3 separate regions of the Homo sapiens genome follow, and all the other regions are reported to be linked to region 1. Evidence: microRNA targets listed by miRTarBase, many of them from high-throughput screens and not tested one by one. Region 1 holds a microRNA gene; each other region holds the end of a gene's coding sequence.

Region 1 (3,000 bases):
CAGTCTCCCGAGTAGCTGGGACTACAGGCGCCCGCCACCACGCCCGGCTAATTTCTTTTTGTATTTTTAGTAGAGACGGGGTTTCACCGTGGTAGCCGGGATGGTCTCGATCTCCTGACCTTGTGATCCGCCCGCCTTGGCCTCCCAAAGTGCTGGGATTACAGGCGTGAGCCACCGCGCCCGGCCTGGTGATCTTTTTAATAAGCGTATGGCATGAGTCACCCCATGGCTGCTGGTGAGCTGGGGGCCTTGCCTTGCCTGGTGCTGAGGGGCCAGGAGTTTCACCCGCCAGTACAAATATCAATACTGTGCAAAAGGCAAATAACGTCTGTTATTCTGAAGACAGTTCTGACCTCCTAACCTTTCTGTAAAGGTCTTGGGAGCCCGCAGTCCATGGTCTGTGCCTTGAATACCCACTGGTGAGATGCAGCTTCATCTCATCCGCATGGATCTGGGCTGCGCTCACGCCCCTGCTCCTTTGGGGCTTTTCTGAATGTGAGGCCTTCCCTGACCTCCATATTTAAAATCAGCCCCCCTTCTGCCCCTCACTCCAGCCCTCTAATTTTTCCCCATGTCTCTGTCTCTAACATGCTCTGTCCATTTTGTCTGCCTCCCTCCACTAAAATGTAAGCTCTGGATGGCAGAGATTTTGAGCTGTCTTGTTCCTTGCTGTATCCCCAGCAATTAAGAGTAGTATCTGGCATGTGGAGGTAGTAGCCTGATACGTATTTCAATGAATGAGTGAGCGAATGTGCCTGGGCCACTTTCCGGGGGTCTCCTGGCAGGCCCAAGGGGAGCAGCTCATTGCCCTTGAACTGGCCCCCCTGGGGGTCCGTGCTCCCCACCCCTGATGACTTGTCTTGTTCTCCCTGGCTCCTCAGCCAGTGCTGCCCCACACCGCCGTGTGCCTTGTGTGTGGCGAGGCGGGGAAGGAAGACACGGTGGAAGAGGAGGAAGGCAAGTTTAACCTCATGCTCATGGAGTGCTCCATCTGCAATGAAATCATCCACCCTGGATGCCTTAAGGTGAGTGGCCCAGTGGGGACAGGTGGTGCTGACGCTCTGGGGCAGGTAGGGTTGCTGGAGATGCTGGTGAGATGGTGGGATGCAGGTCGTGCAGTGAATTCCTGGAGGACCCCTGAGTCTGGGTGATCCTGTGTGTCAAGGGATAAGCCCGGGGCAAGGAGGGCCTGGAGTACCTCAGAGACCCAGTGTCATCAAAGGAATAAACACACCCCCACCTCCCAGGATGTCAGAACCAGAGAGGGTTTCCAGAGCCTCAGCAGATGGCAAACACAGGCTGCTTGTTTGTAGCTGGGCCAGAGGAAGCGCCTCCAGGTGGCTCCAGGCTTCTGGGAGAACAAGGCCCCACACCACACTCCTTCCCCCAGCACCCAGTAGAGTCCTCTGCAGAGTCCTTTCTGCATGCCAGGCGCTGAGCTCATGGCTTTACCTGGGTCATACCCCCCCAGTGAGATGGGCACACTAACTTTTATGGCCGAGGGCACCAGCCCACAGAGACGGAGTGTCTTGCCCAGGGTCCCAGAGAAGCAAAGGGGCTCAGCCTCTGAACCCTGGCCTGGATCCACAGCTGCCCGTCTCTGCCAGCCTCTGCAGCTGTGTTTTCTTTTGCCTGGAAACGGGATAGATGTGACGTTGGGGAGGGGGTGCTGCTGCTTCTGGAAGACGTGGCGTCACAGAGCCTTGTGCCCGTGGGCCATCTTCTCCGCCCGTCCCTCTTCTGAGTCCTGGTGTTCCCCGCAGATTAAGGAGTCAGAGGGTGTGGTCAACGACGAGCTTCCAAACTGCTGGGAGTGTCCGAAGTGTAACCACGCCGGCAAGACCGGGAAAGTGAGTGCCGGGCTCCAAGTCCCAGGGTCAGTCGGGAGAGGGGCGGGCCTGGGCCTGGCCGGGACCAGCCTGTCCCAGGAGTTTCAGGCAGGTGGGTTGCCGTCGGCCTGGGGAGGAGGAAGGGCAAGTCCAAAGGTATACAGTTGGTCTGTTCATTCTCTCTTTTTGGCCTACAAGCAAAAGCGTGGCCCTGGCTTTAAGTACGCCTCCAACCTGCCCGGCTCCCTGCTCAAGGAGCAGAAGATGAACCGGGACAACAAGGAAGGGCAGGAACCTGCCAAGCGGAGGAGTGAGTGTGAGGAGGCGCCCCGGCGCAGGTCGGATGAGCACTCGAAGAAGGTGCCGCCGGACGGCCTTCTGCGCAGAAAGTCTGACGACGTGCACCTGAGGAAGAAGCGGAAATACGAGAAGCCCCAGGAGCTGAGTGGACGCAAGCGGGTACGGACCAGGAGGGGCTGGGAGGCAAAGGGGTTGGTCTGGCTGGTCCCGGGTGCTGGGTTGGAGGGATGGGGCAGGGGGTGGGCAGCAGGTAGAGCTTGGGATAATCCCGGCCTCTTGCTGCCCTGAGCAGGTCACCTAAGTCCTGAGAGCCCTGCCCCAAAGAAAGGAGGGGAAAACCAGCGAGTCACTCCTCTTCCCACTCCACCCCCCTTTAGGCCTCATCGCTTCAAACGTCCCCCGGTTCCTCCTCTCACCTCTCGCCGAGGCCCCCTCTAGGCAGCAGCCTCAGCCCCTGGTGGAGATCCAGTCTCACTTACTTCCAGCAGCAGGTGCTCCCACGACGCACGCCCTCCTGAGGCCCCGGGGACTGGCGAGTCCTGGGCTGTCCCCCACCCCACCCCGCTGGTCCTCCACCCCACTGCTGCCTCTCCTGAGGCTTCCCAGGTCTCGGCCCCAGATCTCTGGCTCGTGGTTCTGGCTTGGGGCCTGGGAAGCTGTCTGTGCCTAGAGCCTCTGTTGGTTGGGATGGAAGCTGTGAGTCCAGGGAACCTCTGAGGAGCCTGGTGGCCCTGCTCCACCCACGGGCCGTGCTGTCACCAGCCACAAGGTGGCGCCAGGAGTCTCTCCCAGCTCTAGCCATTCCTGCTGGGCCGGGGATTCCCACAGGGCTGTGCTCCAGAACTGGCTCCCAGAGCCGAGGATGATTTGA
Region 2 (3,330 bases), not on the chromosome of region 1:
CCAGGAATTCCAGGCTGCAGTGAGCTGATTGCGCCACTGTACTCCAGCCTGAGTGACAGTGAGACCCAAGAGCAGCAGCAGATTAGGCAACTTGGCAAAGCATTTCTTCTATACTGGTCCATCTTTGTCAAACACATGGCTTACTTATGAAGAAGACAGTATTAGAATTGAAATCAGTATTAAAATTAATTAAAAGACCAATCTTATAAATCAGAACCTAAAAACACTGGGACACAAACACAAATATTATCTTGAAATTTCTTCTTTATAACCACATTTTCCAAAGGAGGAAACATAAAATGTTCAGAGAAAAGGTTCAAATATCAGTTTAACAATGTGCTCTCTTTTCAGTATATACAGGTAAGTTTTTTTCTTTTCTTTTTTGAGATGGAGTTTCGCTCTTGTTGCCCAGTCTGGTGTGCAATGGCACCACTGGCTCACTGCAACTTCTGCCTCCCAGTTTCAAGCTATTCTCCTGCCTCAGCCTCCCAAGTAGCTGGGAATACAGGCATGTGCCACCACACCAGGCAAATTTTGTATTTTTAGTAGAGACTGGGTTGCTCCATGTTGGTTGGGCTGGTCTCGAACCCTCGACCTCAGGTGATCCGCCCACCTCGGCCTCCCAAAGTGCTGGGAATACAGCCATCAGCCACCGTGCCCAACCAGTTTTTTCTTTAATGATTGTATAGAGATAACAGTACTATAATAAATAAGTTAAATGTTAGAAACATCAACATAAACTAAACAAAGATAATTTCTGACCATCCATAACTTTTTCTAGTTGGCACTGTTTTGATTGCCCAAGAGTACTTAGTGGAAGGCTGCTTGCTGTTCCAACTAAAACAATATTTCAAGGATATGAAAAAGTGTGTAAATTGAGTTTCACTTAAATTATTTCACAATAAAAGTGATTCATAAAAGTTGATTAGTCCGGGCATGGTGGTTCACGCCTGTAATCCCAGCACTTTGGGAGGCAGAGGTGGGCAGATCCCTTGAGTCCAGGAGTTCTAGACCAGCCTGGGCAACGTGGTGAAACCATCTCTACAAATACAAAAAAATTAGCCAGGTGTGCTGGTGCATGCCTGTGGTCCCAGCTATTTGAGAGGGTGAGGTGGGAAGATCACCTAAGCCTGGGACTCGGAGGTTGCAGTGACAGTGAGCCGCGATCGTGCCACTGCACTCCAGCCTGGGTGACAGAGTGAAACCCTGTCTAAAAATAAAAATTTAAAAAAGAAAGAAAGAAAAAAAGGCTACGCACGGTGGCTCACGCCTGTAATCCCAGCACTTTGGGAGGCTGAGGCGGGCGGGTCACGAGGTCAGGAGTTCGAGACCAGCCTTACCAACATGGTGAAACCCCATCTCTACTAAAAATATAAAAATTAGTCGGGCGTGGTGGTGTGCACCTACAATCCCAGCTACTCAGGAGGCTGAAGCAGGACAATTGCTTGAACCTGGGAGGTGGAGGTTGCAGTGTGCCCAGATCGCACCATTGCACTCCAGCCTGGGCAACAGAGCAAGACTCCATCTGAAAAAAAAGTTGACCCTGGGAAAAAAAAAAAAATTGACCTGGCGTGGTGGCTCATGCCTGTAATCCCAGCACTTTGGGAAGCCAAGGTGGGTGAATCACCTGAGGTCAGGAGTTCGAGACCAGCCTGACCAACATGGTGAAACCCCATCTCCACTAAAAATACAAAATTAGCTGGGCGTGGTGGCACATGCCTGTAATTTCAGCTACTTGGGAGGCTGAGGCAGAAGAATTGCTTGAATCCGGGAGGGAGAGGTTGCAGTGAGCCAAGATTGTGCCACTGCACTCCGGCCTGGGCAACAAGAGTGAAACTCTGTCTCAAAAAAAAAAAAAAAAAGAAAAAAAAAGTTGATCTTCTCTCACCTTTTATCAGCTTAAAAAAAATCTAAAGGCTATTTATGTAACCCAGTTTGTCAATGGTTAGCTCTGTAATCTGAGGGCAAATACTTATCCTTAGATTTATCTCTGAAATAAATCACATAATTTGTAAAGTGACTTCCAACTCTAAAATTCCATGACTATTTGTATTTTACTAGGTACATGCTACTTGATTTCTTTGCATTGAAGCTATCTAAATCAGGAAGGATGCACAGCAAATAAAAATGCCTTAGTCCCACTGACGAGCAGAAAAGAAACACACACACATACATATTTTAGGAATATATATTTTTAAAAGGATTCAATAATCTTTTTAAAGCAAAATCAAAGTATGGCTACAGGAGGAGAGGAAATATCCAAATTGTAATCAATGCAGATTGTTTACTTAAGGCCTTATATTTGTACCTGTATAAATACCATATCACAGCACAAAAACATACCCCATCTGGCTCTCTTAAGGTACATGATAAATCAGACTAATGCACATTCATCAAAGTGGCATCATCTCAGGATATGTGCATATTTGACGTGGGTATGAATTCAGGGTTTCCTTGGGTCTCTTTCAAGGACTCTCCTTTCTCGTCGGTATTTCTATTTCCTTATTTTCCTTCTGTTTATGAAGAACTGTTATTTTTATATTTAATGCCCAATTTTCACTACTTGTTCATGTCAGTTCTCTGAAATGTTACTGCCTATGAACCGTGACATGTACTCTTTATAACAGAACCAGAAGTTAAAAGATGTAGACATCACACAAATCAATGATTATTTTAAAAATAGAAAACAATGATAAAAATTCAGTTGCCAACTTAGAGGATTTTATACATTATGAAGTGTTCTATTTTCCTTCCAGGGTCTGAAATTTATTTCTCAAGAAAACAGATTTTATTTCTAAGCCTTTACTATCTTTGCTAGAAACAGAAAAACCAGTTTTCTCTTTGACAAAATTGTCCCAGGAGAACAACACAAATGCTTTTTCCAAATTAGAGCATAAGTCTTCCTTAAATGTCCTAGTGTGACAATAAGGATACAACAGCCATCTTTTAAATGTCATGAAGGCTATTGTTAAGACGGTGTTTTTGGCCGTTTTGCAGATGGTCCATCGAAGTTAGTTCTGTTATCAATGTTATTTTCATCTTCTGCATCATCTTCATCATCACCTTTTAAAATAAATATTTGTTGTATGACAATACGTTCTATGGCTGAAAGAAATATATATAGCTAAAGTGGTTGATAATGAGACCATTTCACTTTAGGGATTAATAAAACCTGCACATTTTAGATTAAAATGATTTTGAGAATTTCAGTGTTTAAAATCTTTATTTTCTATCACTTTCCTCTTTGGAAATATTAGTTCATTCACCATAAAATCCACTCTTTTTTTCTTTTTTTTTGAGATAGTCTTGCTCTGTCGCCAGGCTGGAGTG
Region 3 (3,344 bases), not on the chromosome of region 1:
GGAGCCACATTGCCCTTCCCAGCTGGCCCCTGGCCTTCCCCTGCCCTCCTCAGCCTCACTCAGTTTCTGCACTTTCCCTGTTCATTCCAGGAGCGCAGGGCCCTGGAACGCAAGGCCGCAGAGCTGGAGGAGGAGCTGAAGGTGGGGGCTGTGGGGGCTGTGGGCAGAGGGCCGAGGGTGGGTGGGGGTGCAACCCGCCAGGGCTGCCCAGCTGACCCTTGCCGTCCCCCAGGCCCTGTCTGACCTCCGCGCTGACAACCAGCGCCTCAAGGATGAGAATGCAGCGTTGATCCGCGTCATCAGCAAACTCTCCAAGTGACCCGGAGGGACTTTCCCGCACCCGTATTTATACAGCTGCTTCTGCCACACGCACCCCTTCCCCCGTGTGAACACGAGTGACAGGGCTCCGGGGGAAGTCTCAGAGAAGCCATAGCCCCCCTGGGACCTCCGGACTGGGAGGGGAGCAGAGTCCCCAGGAGCCGAGGGGGCCACCCGAGGCCAGGATGGAGGTGGGAGGCCGAGCCAAGCAGGGGGACGTTGCCAGAGGGGACCAGGGCCAGAGACGGGACCAGGAAGGAACTGAGGACCAAGAAGTGCAAGGATCAGTAGCCAGGACCAGAGTGGCCGCCTGGAGGTCCCCATCTCACGTGTGATGCCACCCCGTCACCCCTCCCCTCCTGAGCAGGGATCCAAGAATGTGCCAAGAGTCCCGCCAGCCTCAGCCAGGTGGGCCTGTATATAGGGTCCATGTGCAATAGGGAGGGACGTCTTCTATTTTTTGCTGCCCCCTCCCCGCCCACTGTCTGGGGCAGGGGGAGAAGGTATTTTCGAGATAAAGCACAGGCACCACAAATAAAAGTCGTGAAGTTGCCACTCAAGCTCTGTGTTCCCAGCCAGAGGGAGGGCACTGTTTCCTGCTCCTGCTGGGGGGCCGTGCGTGTCCATGACCAAACCACTGGGCCACTTGGGTGGGTGCCGGGGGATGGGCTGGTGCTTACTCACCTGTGTGGTGAAGGAGCTTCAGGATGAGCCCCCAGCGGGAGCGAAGGCTCCAAGACGGAGCCCGCGTGATCGCAGGCGGGGGGCTGAGGGGAAGCTGATGGGGCAGGAGGGATCAGCGGGCAAGACCTCTGGGGCCAAGGATGTGGAGCTGGGGAGTTTGGGTTTTGCCATCAGTGTCTTTGAAACAAATTTAGTCAATTGCCAACATTTAACATTTGGAGAAATTTGTGTGTAAAAATCTGGAATTTTGGCCGGGTGTGGTGGCTCACGCCTGTAATCCCAGCACTTTGGGAGGCCGAGGCGGGCAGATCATTTGAGGTCAGGAGTTCGAGACCAGCCTGGCCAACATGGTGAAACCCCTTCTTTACTAAAAATGCAAAAATTAGCAGGCGTGGTGGTAGGTGCCTGTAATCGCATCTACTCTACTTGGGAGGCTGAGGCAGGAGAATCGCTTGAACCTGGGAGGCAGAGGTTGCAGTGAGCCAAGATCGAGTCACTGCACTCCAGCCTGGGCAGCAGAGCGAGACTCCATCTCAAAAACAAACAAACAAACAAAAAACAAAAAGAATTTTGCCTTCTTTTGAAAGAACAGGAATCTGTGACAATATGAACTTTTCAGTCCTGCATAGCCACCGTTGACTAGAGCTGAGTAGGAGCCATCTTCTGAGATGAGGCATTCATTCAACAATTAGTATAACACCAACAGGAAGAACAGGACTGAGTGAGTACAGTGTGACTGATCATTACTGAACAAAACAAAGATCCAATACTTTTAGGAGGGGGGCATCCGATGTTAAAATAAATGTATTTCAAGGTGGCGGCGCTCTGGAGAAAAGAAAGGGGTTGGGAAGGTGGGTGCACGTGTGTGCACATGTGTTTTGAATAGAGTGGTCTAGGCAGGCCTCAGGGAAAAGCTGGTGCAGGCAGATGGTTGAAGGTGGTGGAGAGGGAGCTGTGTAGGTATTTGAGGGAAGGGTGCTCTGGATGATGGGAGCTCTGTGTGTGGAGACCCTGGGGAGGGAGCTGTGTAGGTATTTGAGGGATGATGGGAGCTGTGTGTGTGGAGGCCCTGGGGTAGGGCACCTGGTGTGCTGCAGGAAGCTGAGGAGCTGGAGAAAGCAGGGAATGAAGCTAGAGAGGTCACGGTGGCTGTGTGGAGACTTGGCCCTGGGAAGGGCTTGAGCTGTGAGATTGGAGCTCTGGGTGTCTTTTGGAGCATGGCCATGGCCTGACTTAGGTTTTAACAGGTCCCTCTGGCATGGAGAACAGGCTGGGGGTTGGTGGTGAGGATTGGGGGGACCAGCTAAGGGTCTACTGGTGAAATCCAAGCAAGAGAGAGGGTGGCTCTGGCTGGGGTGATGGGAGTGAAGATGGTGAGAGATGGTCAGGTTCTGAGAATATTGGAAGATACAGCTGCCAGGATGTTCAAACAAGCTGGCCTGTGACGGGGGTAGGGCTGAGGCCCGGCTGGCTCACTTGGGTCTCTTGTCGGGTTCCTGCAGGCATTTCAGTTTGCAGCCTAGGTGGCGAGAGCCACGGGGGCTTATTGGGGGGCGGGGGGCGGGTGCGGGAATGGAGCAAAGAGGTTTGGGGGAATTGCCTACCTTTCCTATTCCCCTACTAAGAATGAGGGGTGGGGCCCCGGGCAAGTGGTAGAGGGGCTGAGAGTATTCTGGGCAGAAGCAACCACATGAACCAAGCTTGGCAGCAGGAGGAGGGAAGCTGAGCCCCGTGGTCGGAGAAGCTGGTGAGCCGAGTGGGCAACCTGTGACTGCCAAGCTGGGGCCTGGTTTTATCCGGTGAGCCATAGGGAGCCAAGGGAAGTATGTGAATAGGATCTAGGGACGGGGCAGATAGGAGAAGGACTCTTGGAGATCCAAAGAGGAAGGAAGGAACCAGAAGGAACCAGGCAGGAGGTGGCAAAGTGGGGACTGAGAACTCCTGCCTGCCCCAAGGGCGGGGGGCGGGGTGGGGGTGGGGGGGCGTCTCTCTGATCCTTTCCCATCTTGGAGGGCGCCATCTGGTGGCCCAGGTTGGAACAACTCCGGGAGAGGCTTGAGGCCCAGAGGCCCAGAGGCCCTCAGTAATCTGGGGAAGGCAGAGCCAGGGGAGAAAGAGAAAGGGCCATTCTTCCCAAAGGCAGAGAATATCCAGTCTGGAAAACAGTGGGATCCAGAGAAAAGCAGACCTTACCAGCCACCTGGATAATGGGGAAAAGAAAGTTACAGGGCTTGCCAGAGGGAGAAGGAGCTAGTTCTTGAGGGATTAGGAAGTTTTCAGTTGGCTGCCATCTCCCAGAACAAAGAGTGGCCAGAAAGCTGTGGCATGCTTGGGAGGCAGCC

What was found. The annotated mature microRNA hsa-miR-7107-5p reads UCGGCCUGGGGAGGAGGAAGGG and lies in region 1 at 1,953-1,974, shown strand. An mRNA with a match to its seed (bases 2 to 7 or 8) in the 3' UTR can be bound and repressed. Matches are read on the target gene's strand: a 7mer-m8 pairs with bases 2 to 8, a 7mer-A1 pairs with bases 2 to 7 and ends in A, and an 8mer does both.
Region 2: miRTarBase lists GON7 as a target of hsa-miR-7107-5p. The part of its 3' UTR that is shown has no 7-base or 8-base seed match.
Region 3: miRTarBase lists PPP1R12C as a target of hsa-miR-7107-5p. Seed matches in the 3' UTR shown: 7mer-A1 at 515-521.

What each region holds. Positions count from the first base shown.
Region 1 is chr12:121,443,300-121,446,299 of GRCh38, reverse strand. It overlaps MIR7107 (microRNA 7107), which reads left to right and starts at 1,948; the gene lies at 1,948-2,027. It overlaps KDM2B (lysine demethylase 2B), which reads left to right. Exons shown (of 23, transcript NM_032590.5): 14 at 882-1,025; 15 at 1,764-1,850; 16 at 2,028-2,288; 17 at 2,507-2,620.
Region 2 is chr14:93,200,720-93,204,049 of GRCh38, forward strand. It overlaps GON7 (GON7 subunit of KEOPS complex), which reads right to left. Exons shown (of 2, transcript NM_032490.5): 2 at 2,175-3,063. The coding sequence ends at 2,969. Among named protein-coding and RNA genes, the nearest start is that of GON7, 4.7 kb to the right of the region's middle.
Region 3 is chr19:55,088,447-55,091,790 of GRCh38, reverse strand. PPP1R12C (protein phosphatase 1 regulatory subunit 12C) reads left to right here. Exons shown (of 22, transcript NM_017607.4): 21 at 91-141; 22 at 233-873. The coding sequence ends at 319. Among named protein-coding and RNA genes, the nearest start is that of EPS8L1, 14 kb to the right of the region's middle. RefSeq lists an enhancer at 2,896-3,190.